2 linked regions of the Homo sapiens genome follow. The protein of the gene in region 1 interacts with the protein of each later gene in a pairwise test. Each region holds a gene or a part of one and is shown on either strand. Other genes may lie near its edges.

Evidence for each region.
Region 2: the proteins of PPIL4 (region 1) and DLG2 interact in binary tests that used the Homo sapiens proteins (3 or more experiments, as listed by UniProt).

What each region holds. Positions count from the first base shown.
Region 1 is NC_000006.12:149,531,823-149,548,830, reverse strand, and holds the start of PPIL4 (peptidyl-prolyl cis-trans isomerase-like 4), read left to right. Parts: upstream 1-2,787; 5' UTR 2,788-2,825; coding exon 2,826-2,895; intron 2,896-7,244; coding exon 7,245-7,312; intron 7,313-7,399; coding exon 7,400-7,464; intron 7,465-7,771; coding exon 7,772-7,889; intron 7,890-13,092; coding exon 13,093-13,235; intron 13,236-14,056; coding exon 14,057-14,153; intron 14,154-15,256; coding exon 15,257-15,373; intron 15,374-17,008. UniProt on the Homo sapiens protein: PPIases accelerate the folding of proteins. It catalyzes the cis-trans isomerization of proline imidic peptide bonds in oligopeptides.
Region 2 is NC_000011.10:83,456,480-83,473,487, reverse strand, and holds part of DLG2 (disks large homolog 2), read left to right. Parts: intron 1-710; coding exon 711-761; intron 762-1,760; coding exon 1,761-1,862; intron 1,863-4,114; coding exon 4,115-4,287; intron 4,288-6,670; coding exon 6,671-6,780; intron 6,781-11,394; coding exon 11,395-11,486; intron 11,487-13,563; coding exon 13,564-13,670; 3' UTR 13,671-17,008. UniProt on the Homo sapiens protein: Required for perception of chronic pain through NMDA receptor signaling. Regulates surface expression of NMDA receptors in dorsal horn neurons of the spinal cord.

The sequences.
Region 1 (17,008 bases):
CTTTTGGATACATCACACTCGAGTCAAAGCCTGGAAAGCTGAGGGAGCAACCCCTGACAGCCCAGAGAAATGACCTGAATATCAATGCGAAGAAGTAGGAGACCATAAGCTGAAAATCACAAAAGATAAGTAACGGAGTAAGAACCACTCACCTTAGTCTCGCCTCTACCTCACCAAATACTTTTTGCCGTTTCTACCTCTCCTTTTAAGCCAAGTATTACTATATACTATAGCACCCTCAGGGTGTAATATCGAACAGAATCTCAATTACTGTAGCATTTTGCTTAATTACTATCCTTACAGCAGGAATAACAGTTATTAACCAACAGTAAACATGAGTGTTTTACTATCACTAGGTCTGTTAGGATTTTTTATGGGACTTAGTAATACGTCACACCCTTTAGCTCCTACAATATCCGCCATGGCCCATTTCTACAACAAGACTAATTGTTGGGTCTGTCCTAAATGGTTTGCTCAGTTCAACAGCACTGAGGAACCTTACAATGACCCAGAACTCACAGTCTTAGGATTCCCTTTGTTGGCTTTACTTTTAACCCTTAAACACATATCAGGCATAAATGGAACATGGTATGGGAGCACTTTCTTTTTTTTTTTTTTCCTCGAGACGGAGTCTCGCTCTGTCACCCAGGCTGGAGTGCAGTGGCGCAATCCCGGCTCACTGCAACCTCCACCTTCCGTGTTCAAGCAGTTCTCCTGCCTCAGCCTCCTGGGTAGCTGGGATTACAGGCATGCGCTACCACACCCAGCTAGTTTTTTTTTTTTTTTTTGTATTTTTTATTAGAGACGGGGTTTCACCATGATGGGCCCGGCTGGTCTCAAATTCCTGACCTCAGGTGATCCGCCCACCTCGGCCTCCCAAAGTGCTGGGATTACAGGCATGAGCCACCACGCCCAGCCATGAATATTGTGGTGGCAGTCGCTGTGGCGGGCACCTGTAGCCCCAGCTACTGGGGAGGCTGAGGCAGGAGAATCGCTTGAACCCAGGAGGCGGAGGTTGTAGTGACCTGAAATCGCACCACTGCACTCAAGCCTGGGCAACAGATCGAGACTCCGTCTCAAAAAAAAAAAAAAAAACCCAAACCGAAAAACCATATTTATTCATTCAACAAACATTTATTTGCACATTGTGTACCAGGCTGTCATACGCATTAGGGATATAGCTTTAAACAAAACAGACAAGATGGAATATCCTGGAACACACATTCTAGTAACAATAAACAAACAAACAAATTCGTAAATAGCATGTTAGATTGTAAAATGTACTCTGGAGAAAAAGCTATATGGAGAAAAAGAAGTGTCTGTGGGGTTAATTTTAATTATGGCAGCCATGGAGGGCCTCACTGACAGGGTGACCGACGCCAAAGCGCCTGAAGGAGGTGAATGGGAGCCATACAAATAACTGGAGGAAGAGGTCCCTCAACCAAGGCAAGTGAAAAGGCCATGGGGCAGGAGTATGTCAGCAGTGTTCAGGGAATAGCAAACTGTCTACTGTGGCTTCAGAGGAATAAGAAGATGGCGTAGGATGGGGTAGGAGAGGATCTTGTAAATCATTATAAAAGCTCTGGCTTTTCCGCCAGGTGCGGTGGCTCAAGCCTGTAATCCCAGCACTTTGGGAGGCGGAGGCGGGCGGATCCACGAGGTCAGGAGGTCGAGACCATCCTGGCTAACACGGTGAAACCCGGTCTCTACTAAAAACACAAAAAATTAGCCGGGCGTGATGGCGGACACCTGTAGCCCCAGCAACTCGGGAGGCGGAGGCAGGAGAATGGGGTGAACCCGGGAGGCGGAGCTTGCAGTGAGCCGAGATCGCGCCACTGCACTCTAGACTGGGCGACAGAGCGAGACTCCGTCTCAAAAAAAAAAAAAAAAAAAAAAGCTTTGGCTTTTCGTCAGATGTGAAGTTATTGGAGATTATGTGTAAAATGTCATAAGAAAGAGTGACAGGCTTGCCCAGAAGAGTGTCTGGGGAATAAACTTGCATGGCAAAATGTTAGTTTTGGCCAGGCGCAGTGGCTCACGCCAGTAATCTCAGCACTTCGGGAGGCCAAGGCGGGAAGAGTTCGAACTCCTTGAGCTCAGGAGTTTGAGACCAGTCTGAGCAACATAGTGAGACCACCTCCCCCGACCGCCATCTCTACAAAAAATAAAAGAACAAAATTAGCCGGGCGTGGTGGCGCGCGCCTGTGGTCACTTGGGAGGCTGAGACAGGAAAATCGCTGGAGCCCGGGAGGTGGAGGTTGCAGTGAGCCGACATCGCGCCACTGCACTCCAGCCTGGGCAACAGAGCGAGACCCTGTCTCAAAACAGAAAACAAAACAAAATGTTAGTTCTTAGAATCGGAAACCCCTAGTAGAGGCCCAAAGTTGTTTTGCGAAAAGGAGACTGACGAGGAAACCCGGAGGAGTCCGCCCAAATAGGTGGAGAGAAGATCCCGCCGCGGGCGCCCCCTGGTGGATAAAAGGGCCGCGCGGAGGGCCGCTCTGCTCTTGAGACGGACACAAACGGGGCACAAAACACTATACTGAGACCGTTCTGAGGGACAGGCTTCCACCAAAATCGCCAAGGGCGGACCAGGATTTTCAAAACGGCCGCGCCGGGGGCGGGACCAACCCGATCCGTAAGTCAGCTGGGCAGCCCGGCGCCCGCACGCCGACCGGAAGGAACTGCTCGGAACCGGGGGCGGCGCCGGCGAGATGACGCAAAAGGGGTCGCGCCGAGGGTGACGCGTGGCGTAGACGACGCCGTCGGCCTGCGCCTGTCACCCCCCTCCTCCCGGGGTTTGTAGCGGAGGAGGAGCGGGCGCCATGGCGGTTCTACTGGAGACCACTTTAGGCGACGTCGTCATCGACTTGTACACCGAAGAACGGCCGCGTGGTGAGGCTTGAGCCCCACTCACCTGTCGCCGGGGCCCCCGAGCTTGTCTCCCTACTTTCCCTTCTCTGCGCAGTCCAGGGCAGAGATTGGCTAGAGCTCGAGCTTCTGGGCTGCTGGTGCCCGCGACTGGGCTATTTTATTAACCGGCCTTGGCTAGAAAAGTTTTTGTGACGGGAATTCGTTTGAGCCTTGGCAGCCCTTCTCCCGTATTTTGTGTTGGCCAGTCCGGTGGACGGTGCTTGCGGTCATTAATTGCCTTTGGGAGTGTGTGTGTGGGGCGTGTGTGTGTGTGATTCGAGCTGCACATACAATACCCATAGCTTTTGTGCCTTTATTGTGTTTACTCGTGAGAGGAACATAGGAACTATTGCTTGGTGTGTAATCGGTTAAATCTTGATGAAGGCAGTTAGGGTGTGCTTGGCGCAGCGAGTGTGGGCATACCGCTTAGGTGGAGGAGGAAGAGGTTGTCTGGAGTGTGGACTGAGCCTTCGAGGCACTGGGCTAAGTCCTGGGCTTGGCTTCTTGCCCCCGAGGGTCTGATTTTTCCACTGGGGGAAGTAGACACAGGAACCCATTTTAGTTTTCTATGTGTTATGGTAGAAGAATGTGTAAGTTGCCACGGAAACCAGAAGAGGGCGGCTTCTTTGGTGGGGGGTGGGAAGAAGCAAAGCTAGCGAATACTATATAGAACACTTGAACTAGTTCTTTCAAAGATGAATGGGAATGAGGGTTTTCTTAGCTTGGACTTTCTTTGTTTGGAATTTTCTGGAAACGGCAAGTAGTTTGGTGTGGCTGGAAGGACTGGTGTGAGTCGTGGAATGGTAGACTCGAGTGTGGTCAGATACGCCTAGGTCAGTCGTGAATAGTCTTGTGTGCCCTACTGATGATCAGAGTCCTTGAAGACTTTAAAAGCAGGATTGAGGCATGGCATACTTGTTTTGAGAAGATAATAGGCAGCGGTGTGGAGAATGTATCAGAGTCAGGAAGAAACTGAGACCAGGAGAGATTAGTTACAAACAGGGTCCTACCCACATGGAATGCAGAGCCTATCAAAGAAGGTGAAATAAGTTGCAATATTGTACAATAACTACCTCCTGCCGTGCTCCGCTTTCCCTCGCACGCAGCTATTCCTCCCTCCTCTCCACCTGGCGAAAACACTACAAACTCTCCCGTACCATTGTTACCATTCTTTTGCTGTTTCTTCTAAACAATATTCTTCTCCACTATTGTCCTTCTGGCAAACTTACTACTTATTATCTAAATCTCAGATCAAGCATCATCTCTTCTTTGAAGCTCTCCCTCCTTTCTAAGCAGAGTTACCTGAGGGTTCCTCTGCTGTGTCTTAGGTCTTTTATAAACCACATGACACATTTTATTTTAACATTTACCTATTATCCTGGTGTTGTTTACAAGCGTGCCCTCGCTCAAGAATGTAAACTCCAATGAGAGCAGGAACTATACCATAATTATCATCTCTATATCCTGAGTACCCAGTACAATGTCTGCTACTTTTAGGGCACACACTAGAGGTTCATTATGATGACTAATGGATATAAATGTGTTGTATTAGTTAGGACCCTTTGTTCAAGTGATAGAAACCCAACTCAAACTGGCATAAACAAAATAATTGGTTGCCTCATAATACTGGGGTAAGCTTGGATCGAGTGGCTGGATCGAGTGTTTCAAAGAATATCATAGGGAATTTTGTTTTTTATCTCTTGATTTTGCTTTTCTTTGAGTTCCTTTGACGCTCTGCCCATGTAGAGTAGCACCTGGCAAAATAAATGGGCCTCTTTTCCCAGAGTTATGAGGAAATAAAGGGGTGTAGAGCTACCCCACCCAATTAACAAGCAGTGGGTCTGCAAAGATAAGCCCATAACAATAAGTCCACCCCCTGTACATATTTGTAAGCATATGACTGGAGATGTGCTTACATGTGTACCTGCTATATTTATACTCACTTATCAATCTATGATCAACATATCCAGACTTACCTACCTTCCATTCTTTCTTCCTTTTCTTTTTTAACTTTTTATTATAGAAAATTTAAAACACAGATGTAGAGAGAATCATGTAAATGAACTCTCATGTCCACATGACCAGCTTTGTTTAACAGCTGTGAACACATAGCCAATCTTGCTTCATTTATAATACCCCCACCTCCAGTGCATCTATTTAATCTGTAATTACTTCAGTATGTATTTCTAAAATATAACGTCTCTTTAAAAAAAACAAGAAAAAATGGAACTATGAGCTTAAGTACCACATAAGTGACAGGTTAAAAAAGAAAAAAAACTTGACAGGGAAAAGGGAAAAATACTAAAGGAAAGAGAAAAAGTTGTAAAAAAGAATAAAAAAACAGAACCACAGATCTTATCACACTTTGAAAAAACTAGCAATAATTTTTAGTATCATTTAAACTTTCTTATTATCTCATAAACTTCTAAAAAATATGGTGATTTAAATTAGGACCCAAAGTCCATATATTGGTTAAAATGTCTCATATATGTTTTAATCTATTGGTTCTCCCCCTTTTTTCCTTGAAAAAATTTTGAGAAACAACCTGGGTGCTTTGTCTTGTAGAATTTCTCTTGTTTGGATTCGACTGATTATTTACTGGGTGCGTTAACATATTTTTGTGTCCCCTGTTTCCTATAAATTGTTCTTTAGCTTCAGAGCCTTGATTAGGTTCCAGTTTAATGTTTTTGGCAAGAATATTTCATATAAGATAGTGTGTACTTTCAGCTGCATCACATTCAGGAGGCACTTGATGTCTGGTTGGCTCTGTGATGTTAAAATTGGTCAGTGGGTTAAGGCCTTGTTGCGCTTATAAATTGTTCCCATCGGATTTTGATGAAAGACCTAAAGATTTTGGCAGCCATTGATGATCATTGCCTAAATTCATTATTTTTGTTTCTAGTAAAAGGACCACCCCTATCTGTTAAACATGAAGCCCAGAAATATATTCAAGAAAAACAACTGCAAGACTGATATTCAGCACTCTTCAACAGCTCAGCCCCATCTTATCTCTCCAGTCTTTTCATGCTCTATTACTGTGTAATACCAGACTATTACAGAACTTTGGTGTTTTGGACCTCCCCTAAAACATTTAAATTTCCACTTCCAGGCCTTTTCATAGTCTTCCAGACCTAAAATGCTCACCCTTCACTCTCTGCTAGTCCAGTTCTTTTAATGCTTGCCTTAACCTTCCCTGAGGTTTTCTAATTTCCCTAGCCAGAAACAATCTTTTGAACTCTTGTGGAATTTTTAAAACTACTTTTTTTACCATTTTAAATAAGTGGCACACATGTTATTAATTAGATATGCCCAGTATGTAACTACTTGTGTTCAGATGTAAGGACCCTAATTTAATGTAAGCTTTTTGAGGGCAGGGATTGCCTCATATATCTTACTGTCTGTTTGGTTTCTAACTTAGTGCCTTAAGAGCTTGTTAATGTGTCTTTCCACGACTAGACTGTGAACTTTTTGGGAGCAGGGACCACAGTTTAATGGCATTTGTGATGGCAGTGTCAGGCATCTAGAAGGTACTCAGTAAATGTTTATTGGATAAGCAGATTAACTTGTATGAGAAAGGTTGTTCATAAGTGTATGGATTTTTATAAAGGGCTGTTTAACTATTATTTAAAAAATGACCCCGGGTGTTTGACTTTTTCCTAATTGATATAATCCGTATCCATTTTTATATATTCTGCTAGATCCTTTTCTACTACAATATGCTCTTTAAGTGTTCTTTTTTCTCGTAATAAAATCAATCCATCAGTAAATGATTGCTTATAAGTGTCAGTTTTCTGTATTAGCCCAGATGCCCCAAAACTCCTATTAAAGGAAAAAAAAAGGTAATTTAAAATGTTTTTTTTCTAGACTTATTGCCCTTTTATTTTATTTTATTTTATTTTATTTTGAGATAGAGTCTTGCTCTATTGCCCAGACTGGAGTGCAGTGGTGCGATCTTGGTTCACTGCAACCTCCACCTCCTGGGTTCAAGTGATTCTCCTGCCTCAGCCTCCCTAGTAGCTGGGATTACAGGTGCCCGCCACCATGCCTGGCTAATTTTTTTTGGTATTTTTAGTTGAGACAGGGTTTCACCATATTGGCCAGGCTGGTCTCAAACTCCTGACTTCAAGTGATCCACTCACCTCCGCCTCCCAAAGCGCTGCGATTACAGGTGTGAGCCAGCGCCCGGCCTATTGCCCTTTTTTATAGCTTTGGACATTTGACTTTTTTTTTCTTTTAATAGTAATTTAGAAATTACATTTTACTGTGGCTTTACTTATTTAAAAATGTGTTTGTGGATTACTGTGATAAATTTGGTATTTACTTTCTTTCAGCCTGCTTGAATTTCTTGAAACTGTGCAAAATAAAATATTACAATTATTGCCTTATTCACAATGTACAGGTGAGTTGGTAGATATTAGTCATTTCCTTTGTTATTGGAACTATCTAACAAACTCTGTGAATTAACAAAGAATCCTACATATTACAGAGGGATTTTATCATACAAACTGGCGATCCTACAGGGACTGGCCGTGGAGGAGAGTCTATCTTTGGGTAAGTTGTTTTATTTATTTATTTATTTATTTATTTATTTATTTATTTACTTTTAACCTCTGGAAGGGCAGAACAAATTCTTTTATTCTTAAATGAGGAAAAATATAATTGCTCATGCTTCAATCTGCATTTTAAAATATGGTTTAAATTTAGATTTTTTCCCCCAAGTTCCCTAAAAAAAAAAAAGTAATATTTTGAATTCTGTTGGCATTTCTGTAAAGAAATAATTGATAACCCTGTATGTTACTAGTACTTCTGTATTTCATTTTGAGAGTACTTACATTTATAACCTTATATGTTTTTTCAGCCAACTGTATGGTGATCAAGCAAGCTTTTTTGAGGCAGAAAAAGTCCCAAGAATTAAGCACAAGAAGAAAGGCACAGTGTCCATGGTGAATAATGGCAGTGATCAACATGGATCTCAGGTTAGGAAATGAGTAAGAATATGAGATTTGCTTAGAAATGAAGGACTGGAAGGAGCCCACAGAGTTATTTTTTAAACTATCCAGTAAGGCTTAGAGGGTTTCAATCAGAAATATGTGTTAGGGGAAAAAATGCACTTTTTCTATATTAAAAAATATTATTTTCTTCTTTTAAATGTAAAGCATTCCTATTGTGAAGAATTGAGAAAATACAGAAAAGTACAAAGAAAAACATTACCTACAACTCCACCATCCGTGATTATCACTGTTCACATTTGTGGCTCATTTTTCAGTATTTCTTTTTATTTAATTAATTAATTTATTTTTATGAGATGTAGTCTCACTCTGTCTCCCAGACTGGAGTGCGATGGCACAATCCTCGGCTCACTGCAACCTCTCCCTCCCGGGTTCAAGCAATTCTCCTGCCTCGGCCTTCCGAATAGCTGGGATTACATGCGCCTGCCACAACACCTGGCTAATTTTTATATTTTTAGTAGAGACGGGGTTTCACCATGTTGGCCACGATGGTCTCAATCACGTGACCTCATGATCCGCCTGCCTTGGCCTCCCAAAGTGCTGGGATTACAGGCGTGAGCCACCGCGCCTGGCCGTTTTTCAGTATTTCTTACTTTTTTAAAAACATTACGCAGAGTACCTTCTATTCATTGTCTTGTTTAATTCTCCCAATGACCCTGTTAATTCTCCCAATGACCTACTTGTTAGAGTAGGTACTTCTGTTTTCTACTATATACACATGAAGTTGAGTCATGGCTTGTCTAAGTATTTTGTTTTATTTTATTTTATTTTATTTATTTAGAGACAGAGTCTTGCTCTGTCAGCCAGGCTGGAGTGCAGTGGTGTGATCTCGGCTCACTGCAACCTCCGCCTCTCAGGTTCAAGCGATTCTCCTGCCTCAGCCTCCCGAGTAGCGGGATTACAGATGCCCACCACCACGCTCGGCTACTTTCTGTATTTTTCGTAGAGACAGGGTTTTGCCATGTTGGCCAGGCTGGTCTCAAACTCTTGACCCCAGGTGATCCACCTGCCTTGGCCTCCCAAAGTGCTGGGATTACAGGTGTGAGCCACCGTGGCCGACCAAAAAATACTTTATTACTAACAAGTGCTTCTGATCATCTGAGCCTTCAGTAAATCATAATCTTTTTGCTGGTGAAGGGTCTTGCCTTGATGTTGATGGCCGTTGACTAATCTGGGTGGTGATTGCTGAAGGTTGGGGTGACTGTGGCAGCTTCTTAAAATAAGACAACTGACTGGCGTGGTAGCATACATCTGTAATCCCAGTACTTTGCGGGGGCAAGGCAGGCAGATGGGTTGAGCTCAGGATTTCGAGACCAGCCCAGGAAACATGGTGAAAACCCCATCTCCACAAAAAAATACAAAAATTAGCTGAGCATGGTGGTACAGGGCTGTAGTTCCTGCTTCTTGGGAAGCTGAGGTGGGAGGATCACTAGAGCCCAGGAGGTCAAGGGTGCAGTGAGCTGTGATTGTACCACTGCACTCCAGCTTGGGTGACAGACCTTGTCTTGCAAATAAATAAATAAATAAGACAACAGAAGTCTGCCATGTTGATGGACTCTTCCTTTCATGAAAGATTTCTGTGTATCATACGATGCTGTTGGATAGCATTTAGTAGAATTCTTTTAAGATTGAAGTCAATCCTCTCAGACCCTGCTACTACTGTATCAGCCAAGTTTATGTACTATCCTAAACCTTTTGTTGTCATTTCAACAGTTATCATAGCATCTTCACCAGCAGTAGATTCCATCTCAGTAAATCACTTGGCTGGGTGCAGTGGCTCATGCCTGTAGTCCCACCACTTTGGGAGGCTGAGGGGGGCGGATCACCTGAGGTCAGGAGTTTGTGACCAGCCTGACCAGTATGGTGAAACCCCGTCTCTACTAAAAATACAAAAATTAGCTCGGCGTGGTGGCAGGCGCCAGTAGTCCCAGCTACTTGGGAGGCTGAGACAGGAGAATTGCTTGAACCTGGGAGGTGGAGGTTGCGGTGAGCCGACTTTGCACCACTGCACTCCAGCCTGGGCGATGCAGCAAGACTGTCTCAAACAAAAAAAAAAAAGGAAGAAAACCACTTTGTTTGCTCATCCTTAAGAAGGAGCTCCATATCTGGTCAGGTTTGATCATGAGATTGCAGCATTCAGTCCCATCTTCAGGCTCTACTTCTAATTCTCGTTCTCTTGCAGTTTCCACCACATTTGCAGTTACTTCCTTCACTGAAGTCTTGAGCCACTCAAAGTCATCCATGAGGGTTGGAATCTACTTCTTCTTAACTTCTGTTAATGTTGATATTTTGACCTCCTCCCACAAATCACGAATGTTCTTAATGACATCTAGAATGGTGAATCTTTTTCAGAAGGTTTTCAATGTACTTGCCCATATCCATCAGAGGAATCACCATCTATGGCAGCTATAGCCTCACAAAATGTATTTTTTTTTAATTTTTATTTTTAGAGATGGGGCCTCACTACGTTGCTCAAGTGATCCTTCTACCTCAGCCTCCTGAGTAGCTGGGACTACAGGTGCATGCCACATGTCAGGCTGTATTTCTTAAATAGTAATACTTGAAAGTTGAAATTACTCTTCGATCCATGGCTGCAGAATGACTGTTATGTTAGCAGGCATGAAAACAGTATTTTTTTTTTTTTGAGACAGATTCTCACTCTGTCACCCAGGTTGAGTACAGTGGTGCAGTCTCACCTCACTGCAACCTCTGCCTCCTGGGTTCAAACAGTTCTCTTGCCTCAGCCTTCTGAGTAGCTGGGATTACAGGTGTGCACCACTACGCCCGGCTGATTTTTTGTATTTATAGTAGAAATGGGGTTTCACCATGTTGACTGTGTTGGCCAGGCTGGTCTTGAACTGGCCTCAAGTGATCCACCTGCCTCAGCCTCCCAAAGTGCTGGGTTTACAGGTGTCAGTCACTGTGCACAGCTGAAAACAATATTAATTTCCTTGTACATCATATCCATCAGAGCTCCTGGGTGACCTGGAGTATTGTCAATGAGCAGTAATATTTTAAAAGGATTTCTTATTAAAAGAGCAGTCATATTTAAAAGGATCTTTGTTCTGAGCGGCAGGTCTCAACAGTGATCTTAAAATATTTGATAAACCCTGCTGTAAACAGATGTGCTGTCATCCAAGCTTTGTTGTTCCATTTCTAGAGCACAGGCAGAATAGATTTAGCATCATTCTTTTTTTTTTTTTGAGATGGAGTCTTGCTCTGTCGCCCAGGCTGGAGTGCAGTGGCGCAATCTCTGCTCACTGCAAGCTCCACCTCCAGATTCACGCCATTCTCCTGCCTCAGCCTCCCAAGTAGCTGGGACTACAGGCGCCTGCCACCACGCCCGGCTAATTTTTTGTATTTTTAGTAGAGACGGGGTTTCACCGTGTTAGCCAGGATGGTCTTGATCTCCTGACCTCGTGATCCACCCGCCTCGGCCTCCCAAAGTGCTGGGATTACAGGCGTGAGCCACCGCGCCCGGCCGATTTAGCATCATTCTTAACGGCCTTGGGATTTTTGGTATAGTCAGTGAGCATTGGTTTCAACTTAAAGTCACCAGCTGGATTAGCATGTAACAGAAGAGTCAGCTTGTCTTTGAAGCTTTGAAGCTAGGCATTGACTTTTCCTCTCTAGCTGTGAAAGTCCTAAGTGGCATCTTCCAATATAAGGCTGTTTCGTCTTCATGGAAAATTTGTTATTTCATGAAGTCATCTTCATCAGTGATCTTAGCTAGATCTTCCAGATAACTTGATGCATGCTGCAGCTTCTTTTTTTTTTTTTTTTGAGACAGATTCTCACTCTGTTGCCCAGGCTGGAGTGCAGTGGCATGATCTCAGCTCACTGCAACCTTCGCCTCCTGGGTTCAAGCAATTCTCCTGCCTCAGCCTCCTGAGTAGCTGGGATTACAGGCACACGCCACCATGCCTGGCTAACTTTTGTATTTTTAGTGGAGACAGGGTTTCACCATGTTGGTCAGGCTGGTCTTGAACTCCTGAGCTTGTGATCTGCCTGCCTCGGCCTCCTAAAGTGCTGGGATTACATAGGCGTGAGCCACTGCACCTGGCCACTTGCTGTAGCTTCTGTGTCAGCACTTGCTGCTTCACCTTGCACTTTTAAATTATGGAGACAGCTTCTTTCCTTAAATTTTTCTTTTCTTTTTTTTTTTTTTTTGAGATGGAGTAATTCACTGCGCCTGGCCTCTTTCCTTAAACTTCATGAATTAACCTCTGCTAGCTTCAGACTTTCTTTTGCAGCTACCTTCCCTCTCTCAGCCTTTATAGAATTGAATAAAGTTAGGGCTTGTTTGGAATTAGGCTTTGGCTTAAGGGATCGTTGTGGCTGGTTTGACCTATGTAGATTACTAAAACCTTCTTCATATCAGCAGTAAGCCTGTTTCATTTTATCATTCATGTGTTCACTGGAATAGCACTTCTAATTTTCTTTAAGAACTTTTCCTTTGCATTTACAACTCAGCTATTGTTTGGTACTAGAGGCCTAGCTTTCCGCTTATCTTGGCTTTCAACGTGCCTTTCTCACTATGCTTAATCATTTTTAGCTTTTGATTTAAAGTAAGAGATGTGCCATTCTTCCTTTTACTTGAACACTTAAGAGTCTCTTGTAGGGTTAATTGGCCTCATTTCAGTATTGTGTCTCGGGGAATAGGGAGCACTGAGAGGGAGAAAGATGGGAATGGCTGGTTGGTGGAGTAGTCAGAACACATACAACATTTATGGATTAAGTTCACCATCTTATATGGGCACAGTTTGTGGTGCCCCAAAACAATTGCGGTAGTAAGATCAAAGATTATAGATGGTAATAACAGATACAATAGTAATGAAAAAGTTTGAAATCTTGTGAGAATCACCAAAATGTGAGCCAGAAACATGAAGTGAGCCTATGCTGTTGGGAAAATGGCACCAATAGACTTACTCAATACACGGTTGCCAGAAATCCTTAATTGTAAAAAATGCAGTATCTGCAAAGTGCAATAAAATGAGGTATGCCAGTATAAGCTTTGTACTTTTTACTTAGTTTTGGTAACAAGTGTCTAAGAATTGGTGCAGTAAATGTGGACTCTTAACTTTCATGTATTTTTTTGTCAGTCTGTAACTGATTTCAGTTTGAGTTATGTATTATTTTTATGGTATTTATTATGTGTCCTTCTTTATAGTTTCTTATCACCACAGGAGAAAATCTAGATTATCTTGATGGTGTCCATACGGTGTTTGGTGAGGTGACAGAAGGCATGGACATAATTAAGAAAATTAATGAGACCTTTGTTGACAAGGACTTTGTACCATATCAGGATATCAGGTATGGTTACAATTTGCTATCTGAATGTACTAGAATGTTTTAATATTGAGATGTTTAACACGTAGTGGTATGGATAGGAACGGTATGCATAGGACTGGTTTCTGGATAATTCTAATCCCAAAAGGTGAATTAATATAAGACTGTAAGAATCTTTATAATAAAAAGGACTTTTTGTATTTTTATACTTGTACTAATTATTTATAATTATGTTTGGAGGAATTATTTATTTATTTATTTTTTGAGACGGAGTCTCATGCTGTTGCCCAGGCTGGAGTGCAGTGGCGCGATCTTGGCTCACTGCAAGCTCTGTCTCCCGGGTTCACACCATTCTCCTGCCTTAGCCTCCCAAGTAGCTAGGACTACAGGCGCCCGCCACCACACCTGGCTAATTTTTTGTATTTTTAGTAGAGACGGGGTTTCACCATGTTAGCCAGGATGGTCACGATCTCCTGACCTCATGATCCACCCACCTCAGCCTCCTGAAGTGTTGGGATTACAGGAATGAGCCACTGCACCCAGCTGGAGGAATTGTTAATGCTTTAATTTAGTTTTTTAATTGAGAAGTAGGGCAAAAGTACTAAGATTTAGACAGTTATATTAGTTTACATCTTAAAGTAATGCAGGGTGATAAATATGGTATCACTCAATGCAAAACAGTAACACTCATTGTGAAAGTATATCTAGGTTAGTAATATCCATATGCAATATGGGTTTTTTTTGGCCTTAGAGATAATCAAGTAATTTTTTGTAATCTATTAAAATAAAATAGGATTCTGAAATAACTTCAATGTATAACATTTGATTTGGATTTATTTTGTAAGGATAAATCATACGGTGATTTTAGATGATCCATTTGATGACCCTCCTGATTTATTAATCCCTGATCGATCACCAGAACCTACAAGGGAACAATTAGATGTAAGTAAAGCCCTCTTATGATTAAATGTACATTCATATTAATGATTTGTATGGATTTATCTTTTTCATCTGTTAAAGTTAATTTTTTCCGAATTATTATCTTGCTTAATTATATTCAACAAGTTTGGAGTTCTTTTTCTTTTCCACAGAGGTACTCATTTTTCTAGCTGTCTTCTCATTTCTCTAATTTCCTTTCTTCAGTTTCTTTTCTACTGAGACAACCTCAGCTCTAGAAGCTTACATGAACACCTTGGGAAAGTGTTTTTCTTGTCATCAAATTAAACTGTTATCTTGTGAGGTAACTTTTCAACTGGGGACACTCTGGAGCCAGGCTAGAACCCAGAAATTTCTGTGAAACAGCGCAGACTGTTCCCCCACATATTTTAAGGTTTATGTGGCTTCCTGAAAGCTGAATTTGTCTTTATGGTTGGGATTGGTGCTTAATTGTCAGATCATTTCTCTTCATTCAGCAGTTAGAATTGGATAATAAATAGTGTCCATATAAATATTTATTTATTTTTTTGAGATGGAGTCTCACTTTGTTGCCTAGGCTGGAGTGCGTGGTGGGATCTCGGCTCATTGTGGCCTCTGCCTTCCTCATTCAAGCAATTCTCGTGCCTCAGCCTCTTGAGTTGCTGGGATTGTAGGTGCATGCCACCACGCCCAGCTAATTTTTGTATTTTTAGTAGAGACAGGGTTTCACTGTGTTGGCCAGGCTGGTCTCGAACTCCTGACCTCAAGTGATCCACCTGCGTGTTCTCCCAAAGTGCTGGGATTACAGGCACGAGCCACCATGCCTGGCCTATTTTGATTTTAACAGAAGCCCACTTTGGCTAATATTTTAGAATTAATATAAATCAATTCTTGGAGGTTTATAAGTTTGTCTCAGTTGCTGTCCAATTAATTATTAAAAATTTTTTTTTAGAGACAAGATCTCACTGTGTCACCCAGCTGGAGTGCAGTGGTGTGATTGTAGCTCACTGCAACCTTGATCAGTTACTGTTTTAGCATGTTTGATATAACTAAGAATAAAGTATGTCTTCTATGTTTCTCAGATTTTTTTATTCTTTAAATATATACATGAGTAACTTCTGTCTTAACAGAGTGGTCGAATAGGAGCAGATGAAGAAATTGATGATTTCAAAGGAAGATCAGCTGAGGAAGTAGAAGAAATAAAGGCAGAAAAAGAGGCTAAAACTCAGGCTATACTTTTGGAGATGGTAAGATAATTATCTTTGTTCAAATTGTTCTGTAATATATCTAATAATACTTACTGAGTGTTTATTTCTGGCTCTTCAGTAGTCTTAAAATGTTAAAAATTGAGTTATGATTTTTTTCTGATTTAAATTTGGTATGGCATAGTAATAAATTGGCTCTACTGTGAAAATAAATTTGACTCTACTGTCAATATAGTGCTAAGTGCCTTTTTAAACAGTGGGAAGTGGATCTCTAACTTATTAATTGAATTTCAGTTGTTTAATATTCATCTCATTCTTAAAGAGTGTTTAGCAGGCTGAATTTTATGTATATTAAAGAATAGTTCTTCACTGTACCACTCAAGTGTTAAGATTAAACAGAATGGTAGTTGTAGGGCAAAATAATGGGTGGAAACTGAGCACTCTAAAATATACTGCTTCTCTGTATTACTAACAACCTGAAGTCATTTGGGGAATAATAATTCAGTAGATGATTAATTGACCTACTTGGTATTATTTTCCATTTCTTATTTTTGTAGAATAGGCATACCTGTCATATCATAGATAATAAATATTGGAATGAATGGATAATAAAGTTACTATTTTATATAATAGAACTTTCAGATTTGTAGTCTGTTTTAAAGTTTATTTATTTATTATTTTATAGAGACAGGGTCTCACTCTGTTGTTCAGGCTGGAGTACAGTGGTGTATGATCATAGCTTGCTGCAGCTTCCAACTCCTCAGCTTAAGCAATGCCCTTGCCTCAGCCTCCTGAGTTGCTGAGACCACAGTCACACACCACAATGCCCTGCTAATTTTAAAATTTTTTTTGTAGAGACAGGATCTCCCTATGTTGGCCAGGCTTAAGTTTATATTACCATCAACTGTCTGAATGAACAAATAGTAAAGGCTGTATAGTTCAAGAAAGCTTTACTGAAATTAAAAAAATTAATTGAAAATACACATTTTAATGAGCACACTGTGTATCTCAGAGTATTGACTCTGAACACCCAACACCAAGACAAATTCTAAGAGAATTACTACACTTGAAAGATATGTTGAACAATTGGGCAGAAAGAATAAGTTACTTATAAGGGAATGAATTTAGATTGTTATCAGACTTTTCCACAGCAACACTTTGGAAGTTTATGCCAGAAGAAAATAGATTAACATACTTTTTAAAACTTTTTGTTTTCAGATAATTTCAAATTTATGGGAAAAAGTACATAGAACTTCTATATACCTTTTACCCACATTCACCAATTTTTAACATTTTGCTACATCTGTTTTATGATTCTCTCTTTTTCTCTCTCTCTGATTATACAAGCACATAAACACACATTTTTTTTCTCGACTATTTGACAGTAAGTTGCCTGTTATTTCCCTTTACCTCTTAATCAGTGTGTATTTCCTAAGAGCAGCAGTATTCAATGTGTATAACAATATGTACGTATTCACAGTGTAGTTACCAAAATCAGAAAATTTAGAAGTGACAGAAATTACAGTTTATAGGGCCGGGCACAGTGGCTCACGCCTGTAATCCCAGCACTTTGGGAGGCCGAGGCGGGTGGATCACGAGGTCAGGAGTTCGAGACCAGCCTGGCCAACATGGTGAAACTCCGTCTCTACTAAAAATACAAAAATTAGCTGGGTATAG
Region 2 (17,008 bases), on another chromosome or scaffold:
GGTTATTTGTTGACTTGAGGTCCACCCTGAGTCAGAAGGCTTGTAGCAGATGACATTGGAGGGGCTGACATTTTACTACTGTGTCTTCCTTAGTTCTCTATCTGAAGTTTCAACGCACAGTTTAGCAGCAATTATAACCAATGATGTAGGACACACCTCAATTTTTGATCTTCATTAATTGACCCACAGCATTTTCCTGACGAATTAATATTAGAGTAAAACCCTGAGTGTCCTGATGAAGTTTTTATATCATAAATGAAATAAGCATATACTTGCTTTTGAACAGTGTGCTTCTTGGGGAAATAAAATAGAAGATGAAATAAAAGGTACAGCAATTCTGATTATGTAGCAGCCATCTATTGAATTGGACCCTTTCCTTGAACTAAATGGCTTCCTTTTAAGTAGTAATGCTTGGTGTAGAGGCCATGGCATTCCATTCTCAATGCCAGACAGAAAGAAGTCTCACAGGTCATTGCCCTGCAGCAAATAGCTAGCAACCAGTTATTACTTAGAGTTATGACTGTGAAAATCTGATACTAAAATGGTGCTAAAGAGTTTTATGAGGATGAAGTTATTTTTGAATGGTTCAAGGAGAAAGAGCAAGGAGAATTAACTCTGAGCTGTGTCTGTTTCCTGTGTTTCAGAGCAGGGCTTGTCTCTGTAATATATGACTGTTAGTTCACTGTGGTTTTCTTTCCTTCTCTTCTCAGGAGGACAAGAAGACCTCATTCTTTCCTATGAGCCTGTTACAAGGCAGGAAAGTAAGTTTCCCAGCACGCTTTCATTCCTAATTTCTGGGCCATAAGAGGTGACATCATTGAAGGAGGGAAAGAGTGAAGGACTAAGGAGAATAAACTCGGCTTAATGCTCTGTTGTCTTGAGACCGTACCTTACTCTTACGCTGTCTCTCACTTTCTCTCTCTTTGACCCTATCACCAAACAGACAACTTCCTGCTGAGTATGGGCACTAATAGCACCTAAGAGAAGGATGCAGCCCTCCAGATGAGTGGTCCTCAATGGGAAGGAACACATTCAAATTACCTAAAGAGCACTAGCTACGAGACTGGTGAATAAATTCTCCTGAGAGACTGATGTCAGCTCAGTATTGAGAATGACTTTCTAGCAGATCTGCCTAAGATGTAGGCTATCTGTAAGCTGCTGCTTTTTCCTGGAGGCATTTATACAGAGGCTAATTGCTACTGACAAGGATACTGCAGAGAGAATTCAAGCATCAGATGGGGACTTGTACCCAATGAACTCTCAGGTTCCTTCTAATCCCAGATACAAGGAAATCTAGAAACTGTAGCAAAGTATAGAGAGTATTTTGATCTGGGGAAAAGAAATCATGAAAACATAAGATGTTATTACTACTAACAATTACTTTTTATAGTCATATCTAAACAATAGCCAAACAGCTGGTTTGGATTCTTTTTTCTCCCACTCAGTTGACTAAATTCAGTTGTTTTGACATTATGTAGGCAGAGCCAGAGAGTAAGCAAAACTCCTCCAAATGTTTCTTTTCATCAACAGATACTGCAATTGCCTTTCCCTGCTAGTAGATTCCAGAAAGTAGGCACTGCCAATCTCCTGAGTGTTAAACATCAATTTCCCTATGCAAGGCTGTATGAGTAATTTATCCAGTGAAGTAATGCCCTTAGCATCTCTTACTGTCTGGCAATTAAGAATCACCCTTGCAGGACAGTTTTGCAGTTGTTTCCAACTCTTTCTCTTTACCTACATCTTCCTTTCCCATTCTGCAGTAAACTACACCCGGCCGGTGATTATCCTGGGGCCCATGAAGGATCGGATCAATGACGACTTGATATCTGAATTCCCTGATAAATTTGGCTCCTGTGTGCCTCGTAAGTGTCATTTTTCTTTCCTCTAGGAAAAACAAAAAGAGCTTGGATTTCTTTATGAGATGGTAAAATGTAATTCCATCCTCCAGTAGTCTCTCCAGTAATTCAAATACCAACCATTTCCGATTAGCTGAGTGCCTTATTTAATTTATTTGCCTAACACTTTTCATTTATGCTGCCGTGTGTCATTCTGTATTTAATAAAAATAATAATGTTTTCTCTAAACTGATTGTAGCCCCTTAAAAGGCAGGATGAATTTTTGTGGCCCCCAACCATTTAAAACAGCATAGGATTTATGATAGGCATCAGTATGTTTTCATAGATTGATCAAAATGCCACTGAAACATTATTTTTTATAGGATGGAAGAGATCGGAAACAAAGCCATATATTAAAATCCTCTCAGGATGACTTAGGGCCATATGTCAATCCCAAAACCCAATAGGCTTTCCCATGTTGACAGTCCCAGGTTTAGGGAGGGTGAAGACAAGAAAATGTGTAACACTTCAATTTGACCTCTAGGCCATTACAGACTTTAAACTACTTTCTTCTCATTATAGATTATCATCAGGCTTCTGGTCCCTCTGATTGTAGCCTTATTAGATTCTAACTGCTCTGCCTCTTCCCCTCCCCACCCCTACCATACTTTCTCCACTCATTCACCCCGTCTACACCCCGACTCTGTCAAACAGAAATGCATGCAGACCTTCTACGTATGTAGACAGGTCCATCAGGAAATTTTAATTTATTAGATAATGGAGCTCTTACATCTGATACCAACAAATATTTCTCTTCCATTCTATGTGTTTTAAGCCTGATGCTTTCAAGTGTCTCTAACATTCCAGTACTGCAAATTTTACATGAGATACTTAAGAATAGCAGGAATTGTATGTGTCCAGTACATGGCCAAAAGACTAGGATGATTGCTGTATCTCATGAAACAATTCCCAGCAAGGGCTCTGGGAAGAGATCCTGCCATAGAACATATCCTGAGAAAGTCTTCAGACAGGAAGGAGCAAATGAAACTCCAGGTCGTTTACAGCAAGCTTCCAGCTTGCTCCTCCACTTTTGAGAGAAAGAAAACAGAAGGTACTTAAGCATTCTTTCTGCTTTCCCTTTCACCTTGCATATTCTCTCTTTTTTGAATTAATAGAACCATTTTGTGATAGTCAATAGATGTTCATTGTACAAAACTTCAAAAACACTAAAAAGAAAGTTAAACGAGAAAATTAGAAGTATACAAAATCCCACACAATACCCAGAGATAACATCATTGTTAATATTTTTGTACATTTCCATCTATTCTTTCTATGCATGCATTTTTTCTCTGTGATGATTTTTTTGCTTATTTAAAATTTTATATAACTATTTCAAATGATTATTATATCCCAATTAATCATTCTTTATGAACATTTTGGTTTTTCCCTATTTTTCACTATTATGAATTGTGACAAAAATATCATCGTAATTGTGTTATAATTATTACTTATAAAATAATATAATGAATATCTTTAAGGATAAATCTGTATCTGAAGTTTTGATCATTTTTAAAAACATATTTCTAGGAAAAAATAAGTGAGTCAAAGATTAAAAATATTTTAACAGCTTTTATTCATATTGCTAGATTGCTTTCCCCTTCTCTTCTTACCAAAAAATTTAGGTGAAATGGTTAGAGTTGCTGATTTTTAGTCCTATCTAACTGTGATTATCTTATTTTATATATGTTGAGAGTCTGAATTTTATGGTCCTTTATAGAATGTTAAGTTTTTGTTCTGACAGGTGATAATTTACTGACACAGCAGCTTCTTCCATTTGTGACATGGTTTTAGACTTTGTGAAGATGGGTGTAGAGTAAGTCTAGAGTAACCTTTTAAAATGTGGCCTTTCTGGGATCTCCATGGGTTCTGACTCAACTCCCGTGTCTTCTAGCACCATGTGATGTCTAAACTCTCCATTTGGAAATGGCCTCTAGGTAGAGAGGTGGGGTGAATGCTCTCTCATATGTTTCTCTTTTCTCAAAGATTACAGCCCTGTACTTCCTGTTGTCTGATATCTGAAAACAGTTGTTTCATATATTTTGTCCAGTTTTTTAGTTGCTTATGGTGGGAGGGTAAGACTAGTACCTGTTACTATGTCATATTTCTTCATACTACATATTTCTACATATCAATGTTGAGGATGTGGTGGAGAATATAGGTGTAAAGCAAGTTTATGGGTATAAATGCACCTTAATTTTATCATTTTTTGTTTTATAAAGATACTACGAGGCCAAAGCGAGACTACGAGGTGGATGGCAGAGACTATCACTTTGTCATTTCCAGAGAACAAATGGAGAAAGATATCCAAGAGCACAAGTTTATAGAAGCCGGCCAGTACAATGACAATTTATATGGAACCAGTGTGCAGTCTGTGAGATTTGTAGCAGAAAGAGTATGTTCACCAATCTTCTTACACCTCCCCTGAAGAAGGTTTCTAGGTTGCAAACTGCATTTTTTTTTTTTTTTGGTCATTACTCTTTCTTGATTGCAATTGTAAATTTTGATTTAATAATTTAAAACATCCAAGCAGAGAATCACCTTAGAGCAATGTCATTAATCTTTGTTCTAATTTCAATAAAGTATTCTCACTGACTTGGAAAAAGTAGGAAGAGGGCTTTGTCTTTGACTCACTATCTGAGGCCCCAATACACAACCTTGATTTTATTAAGGCAGGTTTACTACTTTAGTTGTAAACCAAGGGGATAGCATTCCTGAATTATTTTGTTAGAGGAAGTTATTTTTTTTCTCTCTCTCTGAAAACTTGACATCCTCATGGTAGAAGAGAAGATAGATGAGAAGGGCTGCCCAGCCTTTTGCTCGCAGAAGTTCTAGCTTAGAGGAGGTGTAGATGCTGCTATTATCTTTTTGCTGGTAACTTCAGGGGCATGGAAAAGAGAAGAATGTTCAAGAGAGGGTACCATAGGAAGGCACCTGGGTGTGGCTACACAATCTGCCTACAGAGGGATCCTATTTCCTGTGAACACAGAGAACCAGTATCATAGGAGAAGATATTTGTTGGGTTGATTTGATTTGCCATGACCTTTCTCAATGTACCGCTAAAGAATTAAGTAATTTTGATGTCTATCTAAGAATACACTAAGAAGTTGCATCTATTTTCCTCCCTCTCAAAAGTTCAGTTCTATCAACTAAATGAATACTGGTTCTAGTCAAACTGTCCTGGATAATTGCACCTATTTTCCTCTTTGTTCATGTTGTTAACTTGAAATGTTCTGACTGGTGAATAATCAACCAGCATTTATACATGTTATGTGGCTGCTGCACTTCACAGATAGAAAACTTGAAATCTATTACCTAAGTAATAACGGCTTGAACCATCTTAGTGGGTTTCTCAGATAAGAAGACTTCAAGTATTCACTGGACTGTATTCATTTTCATGTGAACATTATAGATGAGATTTTAGCCCTTATTATTGATTTAGTATTGTTCCTATCTGCATAAAGTGCCTTTTTTCTCTTCTTGCATAAAGTTATTCTAGCCTCAGGGTAATGAGGACATTTCTCTCCAGGAGGTAGAATATGATGTGGCAAATGTATCTGCATATCCAGAAATGCTTTATAAAGCAGCTGCTTGCTCTGAGCACTCATTGTGGTGGAAGCCAAGTTAAATGAGGTGTGCTATAATGTAATAGCATTTTTATTTGTTAACAAACAAGAAATTTACATACCTCATGCAAGCCTTTCTCTCTTGGCATTTAACCCGCATTTAATTTATATATATATATATATATATGTTTTAATTATATATTTTATATGTGTGTGTGTATATATATATATATATATATATATATATATATATATATACATATAGTTTTTATTTTTTTTGAGATGGCATTTCACTCTTATTGCCCAGGCTGGAATGCCATGGCACGGTCTCAGCTCACTGCAACCTCCACCTCCTGGGTTCAAGTGATTCTCCTGCCTCAGCCTCTCAAGTAGCTGGGATTACAGGTGCCCACCACCATGCCTGGTGAACTTTTTGGATTTTTAGCAGAGACAGGGTCTCACCATTTTGGTCAGGCTGGTCTCGAACTCCTGATCTCAGGTGATCCACCCGCCTCGGCCTCCTAGAGTGCTAGGATTACAGCCATGAGCCACTGCACCCAACCAACCATATGTTTAAGTTAACCATTTTTGTGTCTGCCCTCCACTAGACTGAGTACCTTGCAGACAGGATATGTACAAGTACTTGGAAAAATTCACATTATTCTCAATCTTCCACACCGAATGTTGGGCAGGGTGAGACAATGAGGTGTCTATTTTTTCCAACCAACAATTCTGTTAGTGCTCCAGACTTGGGTTTGCATGCTCCTAGCACTAAACTATTGGGCAAGTTAGTTAGTGTGAGTCTTCTGTAAAATGCAGCTGATAATACCTACCTCAGAGATTTGGGAATTTCTTCTGACAATTGTGTTCAGAGATGGTTTTTAAACTTCATGAGAACAGACTCAGTCACATAACATACGGCTGCATGTCATCTTTGTGTGTTACATCAGGTATTTAACTGAGAGAACATATGTAAAATGTCCAGTCCAGTAGCAGACACTTTGTAAGGGGCTAGTTAGTATTAGTTATTGTAAACACTCAATGATGACCCTATATATCGATTTTTATTTACTCTTTGCAGTGATCTTTTTCTGACTTTAGAAATCCAGCATCCCCTACCTTCCTCTAAAACCTACATACATTAGTTTCCTTTTGTTGGATTATGGCCATGCTTCCTATATTAACTTCATATTTTTCTTCTCTTTCTACCAGGGCAAACACTGTATACTTGATGTATCAGGAAATGCTATCAAGCGGTTACAAGTTGCCCAGCTCTATCCCATTGCCATCTTCATAAAACCCAGGTCTCTGGAACCTCTTATGTGAGTAGAGGGCATTGGAGGCCTTCATCCAACTGACTCCCTGTTCTGTATTATACTGAAAATTACTAACAGGATTTTGCTGGGAATGCTTACAAATGGGAAATGCCATTGTTGATTTTTCAGCATTCTCTTTTTTTGAAGATATATCAAAGTTCTTTTAAACAACTAGAAACATAATGTCAGTGATTTCTTTTTTTAACATCCCTCATTTTAACAATAATAGTAATTCCTTAAAACATCTTCAATAATGTTTCCTGATTTTTATTGTTTTACTTCACGGATTGTTTTCTTTGTTAGTTTTTGAGGTTTTGTTGTTGTTGTTTTGAGGATAGCTTGGCTTGATTTGGTTTTTTGGTTTGCTTTTGTTTTCCAAATGATAGGAAGCAATCATTTTTTAATTGTCTCATACTTCTGAGGCAGGTCTATAAGTAAATCTTTTTAAATGTGTAGATTTTTTATAGAGAGAGCAGACAACGTTTGAGACTTTTTTCATTGGCATTTTCCTTGGTTCTCTAATAGAATTCTGATGTTCCTTAATTAAAACTTTACATACATAGAACATCGTTCTTAATAGAGTTTTCTTAGTGGCGTGGCAGTAAAACATCTGTAACTTAAACCAGTAGCTTCATACCTGTGCACTCAGGGTTTTTTCTTTTTTTTTCCCCTCCAAAGGACTTGTGAAATAACTTCTTTCAAGAATCATTAAACAAAGTGGGCAGACATTCACGATCTGACTGTAAAGTCAGTATAGGCAACTCCCATTCACAAAGGTGAAGCTACAGTAGATAGAGGTAACCAGAAAAGGGGCTACCAGCAGGGACCTGAAAATTGATCAGGCAAGATTTGGTTCTTTACTTTGCCACTGATCAGTTAAGTAACCTTGGGCAAATTGCTTGACCTTTCTAAGATTTAGCTCCTCACCTCGAAACGAGGCATACTAATAAATACCTCATAGAGCTAGTATAAAGGTTAAATAACAAGATTAGGAATTTAGTAAAGCTGTTCATGTACTCTTTGGCATATGGTAAGTACTCAATAAATAATACCTATTATTATTGTAAAAGATATAAAATTACTTCATTATAAAGGAATAAAACTATTTTATCATTATAAAACACATAAACAGTACCTCTTCCATGACAGTGCAAGAGATAATGCCAATGTGTCTGTCATGAGGGCCTTGATCAAATTTTGCCTTCATCTGGGCCTCAAGACCATAGTGTTTGACAGGGTTCAGGAGTGAACCACAGAGTACTGGAAAATAATGTTTATGGAAGGACCGAAGAAACAGAAATTATTTAATCCCAGTGGTGAAAGCAATTGCTTACAGAGGATATTAACTGTTCTGTGTCTCCTCTGAAGACAAAGAAGCAAAGCAAACTGCAGCAGCTGGAGTGGCAGCCTGAGAGAATTAAGTTAAATACATAGTTGAGCTCTGGGGAAATAGCCAGAGATGTACCTTGAAAGCAGAATATAGTCCCATATATAAAAAATGGACAAGGATTCTTACCAGGATAAAAAAAGTAAGATCGGGAGGTCACTGACAGTACCTTCAGCCCCATGAATTTAGGTATTAAATTATAATATAAAGAGTTTTTCCCATGGCTGGCACATGGAAAAATATGTACTAATGATAAAATAATGATTCTTAATATTATCATCCCCAATAGCATGTATTAAATTTCTCCTTGTATAGGATACTATGTCGGGCATTGCACAAAGTGAATTAAGCAAGTACAAATTTCATGATGTAAAATTGATTTATAATCTGTCAAGAGCCTCATAAATATAAGTAATGCTAACATTAATGAGAAGAAAAATAGTCCTTACTTCCTGGGAACAGCCATCTTAAAGGCCTGTTTCAGAAATAGAAAAATAAATCTTCATATTGTAAACACTCAGTGGGATAAATGGCTTCCCAGGGGAATGAGGCCTGAGGGAACGACAGCAGTGGCACATTTGGTCCGGTGCAATATTAGGAGACAGTCCCATCTGGCATTCCATAGGAGAAGGTCTACTGCCTTCCACAACTATGAGATGACTTATTTTAGTTATGCCTTAGGGCACTGTCACAGCCACTTATCACCAAGGAAAGTTAAATGTACTAAAGGCTGGACTTCACAATAAGGACAGTGAATCTGACATAATTTGCTGCAGCCATATTCATGGGTCTCAAGTGCAGTGATGGTGACATTCAGACCAATGCAATCTACCTACTAAAGGTTGGATGTTTACTTTACAGTTCACTCTTTTCCAAGGCTTTTACTCCAGGAGCAAAGCTGCCATGAATTGCCCATTCCCCAGAGAGTAGTGAATGCTAGGTCAGCCGGAACAAAAGCATGACAGCTGTCACATTTACACATTGATACATCATCACACACATTATTTCTCAAGTGCATCATCCACATCAAATCACAGAGCTTATTAGCACATACATAGCTGACTCTTCAGAGGAGCATAAAATCAAAGATGTGTATGAAAGGGATGTTCTTTTTATATTGTGCCACCATCTGACTTCTGTTCCCTTTCCATGTGGCAATCTCCCTTCACCCTGCCACTTCCAATCTGCTTTTACCTTCCTGCTCCCATGATGCTCTGTGTTTACTTCTGTCTTCAACTATCTTATAATTATGTTTATCTAGCTCCCCATTTGTTCATTCATTCATTCATTTACTCATCTATTCATTCAACAAATAAATGTTGAATCAGTCTCCATGCCACATGCTGACAAACAAGCCATGGTCTTCGCCCTCAAAGAATTACTGATCAGTCAAGGAGACAAAATAAATTCACAGGTCAGAGAATAAAAACCTAAACTAAGTCATTGCTGTAATCAGTAAAAAGGGAATTCAGAGAAGACAGAATTCTTGGAAGGCAGGTCGAAGATGATCCAGAACTATGTGATTTCTTTCTTTGAGACAGGGTCTTGCTCTGTCCAGCCCAAGCTGGAGTGTAGTGGTGCCATCATGGCTCACTGCAGTCATGACCTCGTGGGCTCAAGCCATGTTCCCACCTCAGCCTCCCAAGTAGCTGGGACTAAAGGTATGTGCCACCATACCCAGCTAATGTTTGTATTTTTTTTGTGGAGACAGGGTTTCACCCTGTTGCCCAGGCTGGTCTTGAACTCCTGAGCACAAGTGATCCACCTGCCTCAGCCTCCCAAGGTGTTGGGATTACAGACGTGAACCACTGTGCCTGGCCCACATGATTTCTTGACATCTGGAGCAAATATTTATCTTTCTCTGAAGAGTGTCCCTTGGTTTAGCCCAGCATCTTCTCCACCCACGAGTAACATCCATTCACAGCATGTACAGCTGAGACTGTTTGGAAGAAAAATTATACATAACACCCCTCAGGACAAGATGAGTTTAGCAACAAGAGTTCAGGAAATTCTCACTACTTTGTATTTCAGCCATTAATGTCTAATGTCAATATATTGTTTTTTTTTTTTCCAAATAGCCTCTTTTGAAAGATATCAAGTCTTGGTATAATAGGAAGTCTAACTGAAAATTGGTTTAAAAAACCAAAACCTTGAGTTCTTACCCCAGATTACTCTTCGTTAAATACACAGCCTTAAGCACATCCCTTCTTGCCTCTGTTACTTGCTCTCGAAAGGAATTGACTAAGGCCAGATGTTCCAGACCCAAATCTCTGGCTTCCTAAGCAGCATGCAAGACGGTAATGATTTCAGAAATTCTACATGCACCTGTGATGCATCCTGATCAGCCAACCAAATTGCATTTGGCAGGACATTTTTTTTTTAACACCTGGAAGACCCGGAAAGATAAAGCTGCCAGTAGTTAAGAATCAATAGATTAGGTTTTAGAGAGAATTCAAGAATTTTTCATTTCTCTCCCACCTTGATTTATCCTTGAGCCTTTTAAAAAAAATTTATATATAATAGTTGTACAAATTTTTGGAGTATATGTCATATTTTAATACCTGTATACAATGTGTAATGATCAAATCAGGGTAACTGGAATATCCATCACCAGAAATGTTTTGGGAACATTACAGTTCTTCTCTTCTAGCTATTTTGAAATATTCCTATAACTGCATTTTATACCCCTTAACCAGCTTCTCTTCATCTCCCCTCCTGCCTTCCCTTCCCAGTCTCTGATAACTACCATTCTACTCTCACATTTCAGAAAGTCTGAGATACACTAGAACAAACTCCAAGAAAGGGTGGTCAGGAAAGTTCAGATTTAGAAATCACATCCAATGAGGGGATAGATGAAGCAATAGGACAGTTTATTCTGAAGAAGTAGAAGCCTCAAGACACACTTAAGCACTTTACTTAAATATCCTAGGGCCTACCATGGAGGATATTAGGTCCCTGCAGAACAGGGACCAGTGACTACAAATCATAAGGAGACATATTTGGCTTCAATCCAATGTGGGACCAAGAGACTGCCCTTTGAGAGAATGAGCTTTCTGGCCGTGAGTCCTTGTTGCTGAAATTATTCCAGCACAGAGGAGTCCTGAATGAAGACTAAAAACCTGTTGCTAAGATTACACTATGTTTTCTGTAGGATTTATTTTTGCCATACATTTTAATTTTTTAGGATTTGGAATATTCCCTTTATGTTCTAATACAAACCCTCATTTTCCCAGGGAGATGAATAAGCGTCTAACAGAGGAACAAGCCAAGAAAACCTATGATCGAGCAATTAAGCTAGAACAAGAATTTGGAGAATATTTTACAGGTAAGTTCACTTTTACCCTGGTAGTGTGAGAAAGGGGATAAATTGTCTGACATTTGGCACAGAGAGGGTTCTGGGCCTGGTGTACTTGTGCCCTAAAACCTTCCTGTTGAGAATCCCTAATATCTGTTTCATATACAAGGAGTATCCCTCTGCTTCACCCATTTTGATGTAAAACCCTGGGTTCTCCTGAGAGTTCAGCTGCAGCCAGCTCCCAGGTTCCCACCAGCCCTACCCAAAACCATGGGCAGGAGATACCCCTGAGCTATCTCCTACCATGAAAAGGATTTGAGGCATTGCTACCTCATTAAACTATCTCCCTGATATCATCAGAAAACTTGAAAAACAAAATTTTAGGGCTCAAAATGGTCAGTGTCCAAAGCAGTTACTCTTGAGAAGAAGCTTGGAGGCGTCCGTCCCCAGCTCCATGAGCTTTCATCAGTGTCCCTATCAGCAGCACCTGAACAAGATGCTTAAAACTTCCTCATGTTTCAGTTCACTGTGTCAAGTCTCAACCAAAACTGCTTTTTTTTTCTTTTTAAATGTTTCCTTGGAAACATGAAGGGGAATAGAGGTTTTCTTCTGGAGAGCCTGAGTTCTGAGTTCTGTATTCCTATATACTTTCATAGAACACTGAGTAATCAGACTTTGTGAAATTTGCCTTACACCTGGTTCCCGGAGGTTTAAAAACAAGAACTTTCGAGCTGGGCTTATGCCTCTAATCCCAGCACTTTGGGAGGCTGAGGTGGGTGGATCACCTGAGGTCAGGAGTTCGAGACCAGCCTGGCCAACATAGTGAAACCCCCGTCTCTACTAAAAATACAAAAAATTAGCTGGGTGTGGTGGCAGGCACCTGTAATCCCAGCTACTAGGGAGGCTGAGACAGGAGAATCACTTGAACCCAGGAGGTGGAGGTCGCAGTGAGCCGAGATCGTGCTACTGCACTCCAGCCTGGGCAACAAGGGTGAAATTCTGTCTCAAAAAAAAAAAAAAAAAAAAAAAAAACCCAAGAACTTTCTTCCTGGATTACCATATGTGAAGTTAGATGTTTTATTTTTTACCTTATTCAGAATATAGAAAGTGTCAGTGCCTTAGCAGTTTGTAAATATCTTGAATCAGGTAATATTAAGTAATCTTTCTGTCAGTAACCAAGATACGAGCTGTGTTTCATCCTAAAAGAACATCCAGGTAGGAGAAACAAAAGTGTACATTTTGACAGTGGTTTATATTTTGTATACAATACAATAATATATTCTGAGGATTGTTTTTAAATATCTAAATCATCTTTCAGTAGTAATTTATTTTTAAGACCTAGTGTCATATGGATAATACTGATGTGTTTTGGAAATCTTTCTACAAGATAACTTTTGTTCAAATGAGACAATAAAATGTACTTAAATCTACTCCAAGTGACTTAGTGTTTTAGGAGATACACAACTGAGCAGTTTGTTTATATTTCTTCCTGTTTATGTTTCTTATAAATAGTGGACTTATGGTATTCTCAATATGAATAGCTCTGTATGGTAAAAATCTCAAGTTACCAGAGATTTGGGGAATTAATGGGTTTTCCTATTAAGGGCTTTGAGGGTTGGGAGGCTAACTAAACTTCCCTCTAAAATCTTCATTATTTCCTCGGTGTCTACAATATCTGAATTTCTGCTGCTGCCAAAATAAGTAAATATACAGACTGTAAGGCCAGTTTTCTTTTCTAAATAGGGAGCTCTCAGTCTGAAAATTGATCATTGCCCAGCTCAGTGCCTGGCTCAGAGTAGGCACCCATAAAATATTGGTTAAATAGATGAGTGATAAATTGTCCAGTACTACAGACAGACATGTAGAAAGTGCAAAGACTGTGAATCATTTGTTACTGATCCAGGATATCCATTGAAAGCATTTCTTAAAATCATGAATGTAACTTTGCTTATATGAATTTTCTGCTTCTTCTTACTAATGAAAAATGATATGAAGCTTCCTGATGAGTCATCTGCTACTGATTTGAGCCTCCAATGTGTAAGTGATGATTGTTCTTCACCATCCAGGAAATTATTTCTAATTCTGGGTGTGTTTGCTTTTGTTACAGCTATTGTCCAAGGAGATACTTTAGAAGATATATATAACCAATGCAAGCTTGTTATTGAAGAGCAATCTGGGCCTTTCATCTGGATTCCCTCAAAGGAAAAGTTATAAATTAGCTACTGCGCCTCTGACAACGACAGAAGAGCATTTAGAAGAACAAAATATATATAACATACTACTTGGAGGCTTTTATGTTTTTGTTGCATTTATGTTTTTGCAGTCAATGTGAATTCTTACGAATGTACAACACAAACTGTATGAAGCCATGAAGGAAACAGAGGGGCCAAAGGGTGGGACAGAAAAGACATTGCAGTATGAAGGAAGGCTTTGGTTTGCTCAAAGTGCCAGGTGTAGGGATGAACCTCTGACGGGCTTTCTGCCCAAGAGATGAGATGAGAGCCTCCTCACCCCAGCAGATGTCCAGAGCTGATTTAGCTGCAGAGCTCTCTGTGTCTTTTGCTTTAAAGAAAAATTGCCAGCACTCGAACCTCATCAGCCTTCCCATTACCCACATCTGTAATTGGTACACTTTGAATTTTATAACTATGCACATCTTTTGATTTCTTAACAAGCAAATGAAAGAAAGAAGGAAAAAAGAAAGGAATCCCTTTGGAGATGACATACTATCAGGGAAGGATAAGTGTGTAGTTTTTTGACTGGCATCTGCAAAGACAAGAATTTCATAAAATTTGCAAGTGTATGGAGGACTAACCTCACTGACAGGAGGGGATTCCACCTGGGATTAGCTTTATGATTGTTGATTGCCTATTTTGCCATTTATAAACTGAAAGAAGGCACTAAAGATGAGAATAATTTATACAATAAAAATATATTAAATGTATAGAAACAAATTTCTATAGGTTAAAAAAGTTTTGTGAAATATTTTGTAAAGACTAATATTGAAAGACTAAATGTATGCAACATCAGCAGATGATCAAATTCAAGACCTGAAAGTTGCACTCTCCCTTTTGTTGCCAATGATCTGTTAAGAGCATCTGAGTTCCTTTTAAGTCTGACAAAGACTTCTTCCTCACTTACCTCCCTTCCACATTAGTGATACACTCTCATGCAGCACATCCCTTAATGAGTTGCCCTCATGGATATTTTTGGAAGACATTTGGTTAATGCATTTTTTTATGCTGATGGCTTTTCAGAGACAAACTTATGCAAATGATCTAAAGGGAAGTTTTTGCTTTCCTCTAGTTAAATAACCTGAGCCTGCCATGCAAATAGTTGAATAACTTTGTTCCTAGTTACTGACATACAATTCTTAAAGGACCATTTAGCATTTTGGCCAACAATGAGTAATTAGGATTAGTACCTTTTTGTTTTACAGAGTAACTGAGAGTTTTGTAACATCCAGAGATGGTACTAGAGCCAATGAGAGATCTGTTCCTAGATGCACTATTTCTTTGAGGAAGAGAGAGAAGAGAAGTGTCTGGTTGGGGGTGAGGGGGTGCAGACTTTTTTGTTTCTATGTACAGAGCAAAGAGATAGAGTCACAAGGAAAGACAATTAATGACTTTGAGCTCAACCAACTGAACTGCCTTTCTTGGAGCTGCACCTGGACCAAGTTTATTTTTTAACAATTATAATAACGATGATTTAAAAAAAGAAACCTCCCAAAGCCTATAAACTGAACTAGAAGAGTTGGTTTCCCACTTTAGAGTGGATGGCGACATCAGCATTGCTTTTGCCCATGGTGTTTGGGGAGAGACTTTTCAGTGATAATAACCACTCTACTCTGGGTTCTGTGCATGCCCAGACTAAGCCCCATCGCCTTATTTCTGGGGTACATCCAGACCTGGCAGGGATTCTGCCACACTGTGCAGCAAACCAGCATGTAGGCTGGGTAGGAGAGCAAGAGATAGAGCCATCAGAGTGATGGGGCTTCTTCACAGTAAGAACATCGGAGCTTAGAATGAGAGTCTCTTTCCAAAAACAGGCATTGTTCATCTTACGCTAAACATCATTGTCTGCCTGGCTACAGTCACCAAAACAAAACAGAAATGCAAAATTATGCATCTTCCCATAGTCCTGAGGCTTCCTTTGCCAATGGAAGGGCTAGCAATGCATTCTCCCTCTCATGAAAGTTAAATTTCCAGAGACTTCCTTAGATTGCTCAAAATGTTAAAGATATGTCCATGTCTGCAATTCGCCAGTTTCAGGTCAAGGCCTACTTTCATCAATATTGCTCCCAGAAGTTTTCTGACACCAGAATGCCATTCCTGATCCCAGCTCTATTTTTAGGCCACCACGATAACTTCTTTGGTTTCTCAACTGAGCATGCAACCATTTATTTAAAAGACTGTCATTAATGAGTAGATGTTTTCGCGGGTCGTGTGATGTGCTTTCCATTTACTAGTGTTGCTGTGGCTAAGTACAATCAAATTGAACCACCAACCCTTGGTTTTGTAGTAATATAACTATTTATTTTCCTAGTGTAGATGCTTTCAGATTAGAATTGGCATTTGCACTGATTTTTTTATGTAGATTTATATAAATATATAGATACATATATATTTGCTTGAAGAATCACCAAGCAAATTGGTGAGAGGGTCTTTTCCAATAGAATTTACACCTCCATTTGTTGTGTTGTCTTGCACTTCCCAATGTTGATGTCTCTATGGCTCCAATGAACTGGTGTATTTTGCAGCAAATCTGATGACTTGTATGGAAATGGCATGAAAGTTACCCAGATTACATCTGGTGCAAATGCACTCGGAGCCTGGGGCCAGACTGGTGCTAACACTGCAAACTTTGTCCAGAGCTCTCTCCAACCTGAAGGCTTGCTGGGGGTGCAATGTCACCTTCACACATGCTGGGCCCTTTCAGAAAAGTGCCAGATCGTGTAACTGGTGCTATTTTTCATGCTCTGGTACAATGTGTAGCACCACGGGGGTCTCAGCTTTACCAAAATCAAAATTCCATTTGTCAGCTAAGTGCAGAGGCATTTGTTTTTTGCTCTCCTCCCACAGAATTGTCGGCCATTTATTTGCAGGCCTTTTGCGGGATTTCTTGGCTATTTATTTGCAGGCCTTTTTTCCCAGCCCCAAATTCTTGGGTTGGCTCTGTCTGCTTAAAGAGCCTGTCTTCACAAAGCTGCACTCGGGTGCCTCTGTGCGCTGTCTTAGATCCTACTGCCGGCCCTTCAGGACTCCGAGCCAGGAAAGAACTCTCCAACCTCTGGCTCGAGACTCTACTTTTTTTCTCATTCTTTTCCTTACTCTCCTCCTCCTTCTACTTCCGACTAATTCCATCTCTTTTTTTTTTTGTTCCTCTCCTTTTCCTATTCCTCCTTCCCACCATCTCTGAGTTGTTGACTTTCTCCTATAATCCTTCTCTATTCCCTTTCTCTTTTTGTCCACCTCTCCTTTAGTCTCTGTTTCTCTGCCCTTCTTATTCCTCTTCTGTCCTTTCTCCTCTCCTCAAATCTCTGATCATCTTCT